Regions from separate parts of the Homo sapiens genome. Here regions 1 and 2 are each reported to be linked to region 3. Evidence: microRNA targets listed by miRTarBase, many of them from high-throughput screens and not tested one by one. Region 3 holds a microRNA gene; each other region holds the end of a gene's coding sequence.
Evidence for each region. The annotated mature microRNA hsa-miR-3689a-3p reads CUGGGAGGUGUGAUAUCGUGGU and lies in region 3 at 2,566-2,587, opposite strand. An mRNA with a match to its seed (bases 2 to 7 or 8) in the 3' UTR can be bound and repressed. Matches are read on the target gene's strand: a 7mer-m8 pairs with bases 2 to 8, a 7mer-A1 pairs with bases 2 to 7 and ends in A, and an 8mer does both.

Region 1: the mRNA of GNPTG is a reported target of hsa-miR-3689a-3p. The part of its 3' UTR that is shown has no 7-base or 8-base seed match.
Region 2: miRTarBase lists GNG4 as a target of hsa-miR-3689a-3p. Seed matches in the 3' UTR shown: 8mer at 1,642-1,649 and 8mer at 900-907.

What each region holds. Positions count from the first base shown.
Region 1 is chr16:1,362,568-1,365,567 of GRCh38, reverse strand. It overlaps GNPTG (N-acetylglucosamine-1-phosphate transferase subunit gamma), which reads right to left. Exons shown (of 11, transcript NM_032520.5): 9 at 2,826-2,957; 10 at 2,662-2,743; 11 at 1,455-2,571. The coding sequence ends at 2,477. It overlaps UNKL (unk like zinc finger), which reads left to right. Exons shown (of 15, transcript NM_001372107.1): 15 at 1-2,363. Among named protein-coding and RNA genes, the nearest start is that of GNPTG, 12 kb to the right of the region's middle.
Region 2 is chr1:235,549,659-235,552,658 of GRCh38, forward strand. GNG4 (G protein subunit gamma 4) reads right to left here. Exons shown (of 4, transcript NM_001098722.2): 4 at 1-2,579. The coding sequence ends at 2,451. Among named protein-coding and RNA genes, the nearest start is that of B3GALNT2, 47 kb to the left of the region's middle.
Region 3 is chr9:134,846,761-134,850,453 of GRCh38, forward strand. It overlaps MIR3689C (microRNA 3689c), which reads right to left and starts at 2,609; the gene lies at 2,538-2,609. It overlaps MIR3689A (microRNA 3689a), which reads right to left and starts at 2,804; the gene lies at 2,727-2,804. MIR3689D1 (microRNA 3689d-1) reads right to left here and starts at 2,922; the gene lies at 2,849-2,922. MIR3689B (microRNA 3689b) reads right to left here and starts at 3,512; the gene lies at 3,365-3,512. It also overlaps MIR3689D2 and LOC101448202.

The DNA.
Region 1 (3,000 bases), not on the chromosome of region 3:
TTGATGGAAGGAGCTAGTTTTCCTGAGCCTGTGTGTGCACCAGGCACTGGGGCTGATGTTCCAGCCTCGTGGCGTGGGAGCAGGAGAGCTCCGTCCTGCATTTCTGTGGTCCGTGGCCGCTGTTTCTGTGCGCCTGCGCCTCGGAGAGCAAGTGAAGGAGCATCATGGGTTTTGTTTTCTCCCTTAACCCTCTGAAAGACAGTTTGATACTAACAAAAAACGCAGCAGAGGGGATCCGACGTCAGAGCTTTTAGAATTACTTTTTTAAGCAGCTGTCTTCTGGCTGGGTGCGGTGGCTCATGCCTGTGATCCCAGCACTTTGGGAGGCGGGTGGATCACCTAAGGTCAGGAGTTCAAGACCAGCCTGGCCAACATGGTGCAACCCCGTCTTAGTAAAAATACAAAAATTGGCCTGGCGTGAGAGCGGGCACCTGTAGTCCCAGCTACTCGGGAGGCTGAGGCAGGAGAATCGCTTGAACCTGGGAGGCAGAGGTTGCAGTGAGCCGAGATCGCGCCACCGCACTCCAGCCCGGGTGACAGAGCGAGACTCTGGCTCAAAAAAAAAAAAAAAAAGCTGTTTTCTGATTACTCAGAGCTGTCCTAGGCAATGGTGCTTTGTAGCTCCTTGGAGATGTCGCTGGGCGTCCTGGCAGGGGTCAGGCAGTGAACTGGGAGAGTGGTTGCCTCCCCAGCACCCGTGACCACCCTGGTCCTGCTCGTGTGGGAGATGCTCGGGCCGTGTGTGCGCCAGGGTCCGGGGTGCCGGGTGTATGTGGCAGTCACCTGACCCGCGCTGCCAGTTATCATCGGAGCTCATCCATGTGGCCAGTGAGGTCACAGGAGAGGACCCGGCCACAGCCTCTCAGTGGCCTGGAGCACACGGGGGAAGCGACCCCCCCCAGGTCCCGGCTCTGCTGTGGTCCCCTGTCCCGTCTGCCCCTGGAGCGACAGTGTGGTTTCGGCCGCAGCAGAAACGTGACTGAGAACGCATCCCCGCGATGACCTGACCCTTCTGCTCAGGGCTGGGACTGTCCCTAGGAGTTGAGCAGGAACAGGCATCTGTGGTTTACGGCGACCTGGCTCTCCGCGGGCCACGTGGGTGGTGAGGGCACACGAGTGGGAAGCGGCACCGACGTGTTTCTCCCCGACCGTGGCTTTGCCAAAGACTTTTAATAGCATTTTTTAAGTGCAAAACGTCTAGGTAAAAATCTTTATCATCAGTGACCAAATTAGAATGTATTTAATATAGTAGGTGGTTTAAGAACTGTTTTAACGTAAGACAAACTGATAGCAACATTCTGTTGTTTTAAAGGAAGTGGGTCCGTGACATTCTGCAGCTAGTCCACTACTCCAAGGTAACTATCGACTTGGTTTCAGTGAATCTATTTTGTTTTTAACTACAGTGATTTATTAGCTCAGTATCTAGAAATTACGTATATTTTGTGCTACTGTCATCGATGTGTAAACTCTGTTTTTATTTGTATTTATGCACTTGGTTCCCATTTGGAGCCTCTGGTCTTTTCTGGGATAAGTGGTGTCTGCCGAGACATCTCCCGGTTGTCAGTGGTCAGGAGCAGCTGAGCTCTAGTCTGCCAGCTGCTCTGCTCTTTCTGGGAAGGAGGTGGCGCCCGCCCCTCAGGGTGTCTCCAGGGCTCAGCTTCCGGGGTGGTAGAGCTGGGGAGCCCCAGGGGTGGGGGGACAGCTGGGAGATGGAGGTGGCACCTGCTCCCCTAGATCAGTACTGGCTCTGAGGACAGGTGAGCAGTGGGAAGACCAAAGAATGGCTGGCAGCGCTGCCAGGGTTGGAAATGGGGGCAAGATCCTGGGGCTGTGTGCCCTGGGGCCTCCCTCACCTGTCTTGGTGGCCATGGCCTCAGGGATGGCTCCTAGGTGGCTGAGGCACAGCAGTGGCTGGAAGGTGCCCCGTGGAGGCTGAGGTGGAGGCGCGCCCAGCAGCTCCCCCCTGTGGCCATGGCGGGCACGGGGCGTAGGAGCTGGCTGGCGGCCGGCTCTGCATGTTCTTGTTGCCTGTCGTCTGTAACTCTAGTGTTCGACATTCGCCGTGATACAGTGGTGTCACGACGTGTGTAACTGTGGTCAGCAGACCTTGTTCCGCGTGGACGCCTCAAGTGGATTAATTTCTGGAAGCCTCAATCTGTATGTTTGAGTATTTACATGAGAATGTTATTTGAATGGAATTTTCTTAACCCAGAAGGTAGTATTTATAATCATTTACTTGTAGCGAACTGTTTAAAGTTAACACTTGTTTAAATTTTTTTACACTATAGCATTTATGCAATGGTTTACAGAATTCATGGAGTTATTTTTATCAGTATGGGAATTAATTAAAACCTTGAATCTTTGTTTTGTCTGCTTCTCTGAGCACAAGCCTGGTCAGCTGGTCCCTGCGGGTCCTACCAGCCAGCTTCTCTGTAGGGCTCTCGGCCGCGTCCACCTCTGCTCTCCCACCACAAGGTCACAAACTCCCACGCAGTCCTGGGTCACCCCGCAGCTGCTCTGGAGACTTGGCTCTGGGCGTCTCGTGGCCCAAGTGCTCCAAGTTGGAAGTTTCTGCCAAAACACCAGGTGGCCAGTCCTCACCTGGACCCACAGGTGGCGAGTGTGATGGTGAGCCTGGCCCTCTCCCCACAGGTGACTCACCTGTGGGCCTCGTGTAGGGGATGCCGTGCTGGGTGAGCAAACCTTTCAGCCTTTTGATCTCCTTTGAGAGTTCTTTATGAGCCTACCAACCACAAAAAGAGTTCAAGGGAAAGCCCAGGTGCTGGAGGGCTACTGCGTGCCACCACCTCCCCCCAATACGGTACCTTCCTGCAGTTTTCCAGGGTCTCAAACCCCAAGCTGTCAGGACCTCCCTCCAGCTGGGTGGGTTCATTTTCTTCTGGGGTCTTTAAGTAGCCAGCATCCTCAAAAAGTGTCCTCAGCAACTTCTCATGGCCCTGAAGGTGGAGGATGCAGGGGCAGCACCCAGCTCCCAGCCAG
Region 2 (3,000 bases), not on the chromosome of region 3:
TGGTATTATTAGTGAGCTGATAATGAAACTAAGAATGAGTTTTAACAAAAGAAGCAAGGAACAAAGATGTCCTAAATCCATTTACGAGGGCAGCAAGTCATTAATTGGTCTGGAAATTACATTTGCCTCTTTGCAGGCAATTTTATGCCTCCAACGGAACCATGGTCTCTTTGAAGTCATCCATTCTTCCCTATATTATACCACGGCATTTAGTACATTTATTTGTTTTAAATGATAATCAGAGCTTTCATCTATGTAGCATCTCTGTTTCCTCCCAGACAGAAAGGCAGGATAATTACCATTAAACCCAATTTGCAGGTTAGAACATTTCAGGCACAAATGGCCTGTTCTCTATCACACAGCAAGTCTCTTTCAGAACTAGGGAGAGAGGCAGTTTCCAAATAAACAGAATAGAACAAACTTACACAAAGAGCTCTGCTCCCACTGTGTATTCTCCTCTTTCATCGGGATCATATGAGTTTGGTTTAGGTAGGACCTTCAGGTTGATCTTAGACAATCCAAGAGCTAATTCATCGATGTCTAGCCTTTCCTTGGGGCATCCATGAATCACCTTCCTTAAACTACCAGAATACGGCTTCCTCCTGGAGAATGTGGGAAGTGAAGTGTGCCACGGGTTACTGCAACAAAGGTGTTTGCTTCACGGTGTGCAGTTATGATAGTTTGTGGGTCTCCCTACCTGCAAACAGGTAGACCTGGAAGGTAGCACAGTTCAGGGGGCTAAGGGAACTCTGGGGCCGGGCTGCCTGCCCTCAAATCCCAGTTTTTCTGCTTACCATGTGTAACCTTGGGCAAACTACATAAACGCTTTGTGCCTCAGTTTCCCCTCACTCTAAGACATACGGCCGGGTGCACTGGCTCACACCTGCAATCCCAGCACTTTGGGAGGCCAAGGTGGGCAGATCACTCGAGGCCAGTAGTTGGAGACCAGCCTGGCCGACATGGTGAAACCCCGTCTCTACTAAAAATACAAAAATGAGCCAGGCATGTTGGCGTGTGCTTGTCATCCCAGCTACTAGGGAGGCTGAGACATGAGGATCACTTGAACCTGCGAGTGGAGGTTGCGGTGAGCTGAGATTGTGCCATTGCATTCCAGCCCGGGCGACAGAGCAAGACTCTGTCTCAAAAAGATAAATAAATAAAATAAAACAGACATGCACTTATGGTATTTATTGTTGGAAGATTGAGTACCTTAATGCACACCAATGCTCAGATGACTTGGGGGCACATAGGGGACTGCTGTCACCATGCCTCACTCCTGCAGGGAAGGGGCTGCCCTACTAAAACCCCAGCGGGCCCAGTGCTGTGTCCAGAACAGGTCCTTATATTACTGCAGCCCACAATGGAACTACTGAGTAGGAGCCAAAAGAGGAGGGAGCAGGAAGAGGTGGCATTTGGAGAGGGGAGACCGCACCCACAGGTCTGCCACAGCGCGTCAACGGTATGGGGTACTTTTACAGTCAAGTTGACTTCGGTGTCCGCCCACCATCTACCTTTGTAGGACCACTGAAACAAGGGACATCCACCACGGCCCACAGCCGGGGCGCCACGGCCCCAGGAGGATATGCTAAGAAAACCATTCCACGGCCGGGTGTGGTGGCTCACGCCTGTAATCCCAGCGCTTTGGGAGGCCGAGGCGGGTGGATCACGAGGTCAGGAGTTTGAGACCAGCCTGACCAACATGGTGAAACCCCGTCTTTACTAAAAATACAAAAAATTAGCTGGGTGTGGTGGCGCGTGCCTATGATCCCAGCTACTCAGGAGGCTGAGGCAGGAGAATCGCTTGAACCCAGGAGGTGGAGGTCGCAGTGAGCTGAGGTCACGCCATTGCACTCCAGCCTGGGTGACAGAGCGAGACTCCATCTCAAAACAACAACAACAACAAAAAAAAAACAAAAGAAAACCATTCCAATCCTGTGGGTTGTTGTCTTTTTACTAGGATGATGGAAATGCAGGAAATACAGAACCTCTGCAGCTGCTTTCTCCAGGAAAGGAGATGAAAACGTTATATGTTTCAGTTGGTCAAAATGCTCTAATTTGATACTGAATATTGCAAATAAGGGATATTTAGGCATAGTTTTTTTTTTAAAATAAATTATCCACTGAAATGTATTAATATGATATAAACTTGGAAACTGATGTTTAAAAATTTTAAACTCTTAAGTCCAGACTTACTTTTACATGGCACATTTGTTATTTGGCTATAAACATTTTGATTTTCTTTGCCAATAATGAAAATAACATGAAAATGAAAAGGAAAAAAATGAAATTGAATGCCACGAAGAAAACAGATGGAAACATAAGACAAGCCCCGGCCACTGTTGGCTGGGCAGGGATGGGTGTTGGTCTCACTCCCTAAGGCTTAGAGCATGCATGGTCTCTACAGGGGACTTTGAAGGTCAGAAAAGGAGGCGTTTTCATCACACACGGAGTTAGAGAATGGTACAAAAGAACTTCTTCTCGCGAAAGGGGTTTTCTGATGCAGGCACTGGAATGATGAGAGGATCTTCCCGCACGTGAGCTTCACAGTAGGCCAGGAGGTCCGCAGCTGCCTGGGAGACCTGTGAGGGCACAGAGCACAGGTGCTCAGTTAAAGGCCCCTTTGCAGAGTGAGTCCAGGGAAGAGGTGTCCACGTACAGAGGGGACAAGCCCTAGGGTAGGCTGTATTGTGTGCACGGCCTACAACATGGTCATGCCCAGGCTGGAGGGAGGGTTTGTGCAGATCTAGGAGACTGGTTCGAAGCGGGCCTCCAAGAAGGGGAGGCTGCCCTCGCATGGCAGGCCAGCATGGAGACAGGACTGAGGGCTGGCAGGAGGCCCAGACAGCCTTGATATATTCTCGAGTAGGTGAGGAGTGGAGGTTCCAGGACAGTAGTCTCACAATGACTTTGCTAAACCGTTTCTGGAAGACTAAAGCAGAAGGCAGCCCCTGGCCAAGCCAGTGTGATCATATTTATTATCATTATTAGTTGTTTTATTGC
Region 3 (3,693 bases):
ATCTATTCATCATTTATCCATCCATTCATCCATCCATCCATCCATTCATCCATTCACCCTTTCATTCATCCATTCATTCATCCATTCATCCATCTATTAATCTATTCATCATTTATCCATCCATCCATCCACACATTCGTTCACCCTTTCATTCATCTGTTCATCCATTCATTCATTCATCCATCCATTCATCCATCTATTCATCATTTATCTGTCCATCCATCTATCCATCCATTCATCTATCCATCCATCCATCTATTCATCATTTATCCATCCATCCATCCATCCATCCATCCATCCATCCATCCACTCTTTCATTCATCCATTCATTCCCCCATTCCTTCAGTGGCAGTTCATTGACCACCTGCTGTGTGCCAGGCGGGAGCAGCAGGGGAGAACCCACCCTCAAGGAGATGCCACTCCAGGGGACACGGGCTGACCAAGACCCACAAGGCAGGGGTAAGGTGTGCCCAGAGGAATGAGACCTGAGGAAATGTAAAGGGGAGGAGACAATGTGCATGTGTGTGGTTGTGTGTGTGTGGGGGGGGTGATGTGCATGTGTGTATGGCACGTGTGTGCATGTGCTATGTGGTGTATTTTGCATGTGCTATTTGTGTTTATGTGAAGTGTATGTGTGTTGTGTGTGTACCTGTGTGTGTGGTGTGCCTGTGTGGTGTGTGTGTGTGCCTGTGGGGAGCTGTGCCTGTGTATGTGGTGTGTGTGCCTGTGTGTGTGGTGTGTGTGGTGTGTGTGTGTGTGGTGTATGCCTGTGTGTGGAGGTGGTGTTTGTGCATGTGCCTGTGTGGTGTGTGTGCTGGCGTGTGTATGGTATATGTGTGCGTGCCTGTGGGGAATGTGCCTGTGTGTGTGGTGTGTGCTGCATGTGTATAGTGTGCATGCCTGTGTGTGTGGTTTGTGCTGTGTCTGTATAGTGTGTGTGTGGGTGTGGTGTGTGTGCCTGTGTGTATGGGGTGTGTAGTGTGTGTGGGGTGGGGATTGAAGTGCTCTCCTGGGTGACCAGGGCCACTGGGAAGGTTCTCTCTGCCTGGAGCCCAGCGGGCAGGAAGGGCTTTGCAGGAGAGGGAACAGCAGGGCAGAGGCCAGAGGGAGTGGGGAGAGGAAGGGGAAGTGGGAGGGGGCTGGTGTGGCCTGAGCAGAGATGGGGAGGGAAGCCACACGGGGCAGTAACCCAGACGCAGGCTGGGGGCGGTGCAGACCCATGAGAGTGGGTCACACTCCGGCTCCAGGTGTTTCAAAGATGGGGTTGATGGGATTTGCTGAGAAGAGGAGGTCGAAAGTGAGACGAGAGAATTCCAGGAGATGCTCAGCCACAGGCATGACCCCCACAGTGCCGCAGGAGCACACACACACGCGCACACACGTTTACCCACTGACAGCTGTGGCCTGGTGAGACCAGGCTGAGGACAGCTGCCTCAGCGACCCAGGCTCAGATGCCACCAGTGCCCCATGTGGCCTCGGGGAATCTGCTGCTCAGAGCTCCTGTCTGCCCATTTGCACATGGGACCCATGAATGGAGGAGGCACTCTGGCCATGTGGCCAGAGGCCCCGCTCCTGTCCTGCAGATGTCTTGGTGACGAAACCCGATCCATGCATGTGGAGGAAGGTGGGGGCATCCCTGGAGCTGGCCTGTGCCAGGCCAAAGTGCTCCTTTGAGCTGCCCAGGGCTGTCCTAGTGAGTGTCCTCAGGCTCTGGCCACCCAGGAGGGCCAGGGGCGTCTGCATTCGGGAGTGGGTTGGAGAAGGGGACGATGGGAGAGCAGGAAGCTTTTGCAACTGCTCCAGGGCCATTGGGAGGGTGCAATTGGCTGACACCCGGAACTTCATTGATGCTTACCCCACGTGCCCTCTGTGTGGGTCCCGCTCCCAGTGCGGACACCACCTCCTAGCTCTCACTAGCTCATGCAGGCCTCTGGGGCCCTCCTGAATCCACACCTCCCAGGGCTGGGTCCTGGTTGTTCCCCAATGGGGAGCTGTGCCTCTCTATCACCAGCAGGCATGTGATCACACCTCCCAGGAAGCACAGGATCACACCTCCCAGGAAGCACGGGATCACACCTCCCAGGAAGCACGGGATCACACCTCCCAGGAAGCACGGGATCACACCTCCCAGGAAGCACGGGATCACACCTCCCAGGGAGCACGGGATCACACCTCCCAGGGAGCACGGGATCACACCTCCCAGGGAGCATGGGATCACACCTCCCAGGGAGCACGGGATCACACCTCCCAGGGAGCACTGGATCACACCTCCCAGGGAGCACCGGATCACACCTCCCAGGAACCACGATATCACACCTCCCAGGAAGCACAGGATCACACCTCCCAGGAAGCACAGGATCACACCTCCCAGGGAGCACCGGATCACACCTCCCAGGGAGCACCAGATCACACCTCCCAGGAACCACGATATCACACCTCCCAGGAAGCACAGGATCACACCTCCCAGGAAGCACAGGATCACACCTCCCAGGAAGCACAGGATCACACCTCCCAGGAAGCACGGGATCACACCTCCCAGGAACCACAATATCACACCTCCCAGGAACCACGATATCACACCTCCCAGGAACCACGATATCACACCTCCCAGGAACCACGATATCACACCTCCCAGGAAGCACGGGATCAGACCTCCTGGGGAGCACGGGATCACACCTCCCAGGAAGCACAGTATCACACCTCCCAGGAAGCACGGGATCACACCTCCCAGGAACCACGATATCACACCTCCCAGGAAGCACAGGATCACACCTCCCAGGAACCATGATATCACACCTCCCAGGGAGCACAGGATCAGACCCCCCAGGGAGCACAGGATCACACCTCTCAGGAAGAACAGGATCACACCTCCCGGGGAAGACGATAGCACACCTCCCAGCGAGTGTGAGATCACACCTCCCAGTGAGCGTGGGATCACACCTCCCAGGAAGCATGGTATCACACCTCCCAGGAAGCACAGGATCACACCTCCCAGGAAGCACGGGATCACACCTCCCAGGAAGCATGGGATCACACCTCCCAGGGAGCACCAGATCACACCTCCCAGGAACCACGATATCACACCTCCCAGGAACCACGATATCACACCTCCCAGGAACCACGATATCACACCTCCCAGGAACCACGATATCACACCTTCCAGGAAGCACAGGATCACACCTCCCAGGAAGCACGGGATCACACCTCCCAGGAACCACGATATCACACCTCCCAGGAACCACGATATCACACCTCCCAGGAAGCACAGGATCAGACCTCACAGGGAGCACGGGATCACACCTCCCAGGGAGCACGGGATCACACCTCCCAGGGAGCACGGGATCACACCTCCCAGGGAGCACGGGATCACACCTCCCAGGGAGCACGGGATCACACCTCCCAGGAACCACAATATCACACCTCCCAGGAAGCACGGGATCACACCTCCCAGGAACCATGATATCACACCTCCCAGGAAGCACAGGATCAGACCCCCCAGGGAGCACAGGATCACACCGCTCAGGAAGAACAGGATCACACCTCCCAGGGAAGACGATAGCACACCTCCCAGCGAGTGTGAGATCACACCTCCCAGTGAGCGTGGGATCACACCTCCCAGGAAGCATGGTATCACACCTCCCAGGAAGCACAGGATCACACCTCCCAGGAAGCATGGGATCACACCTCCCAGGA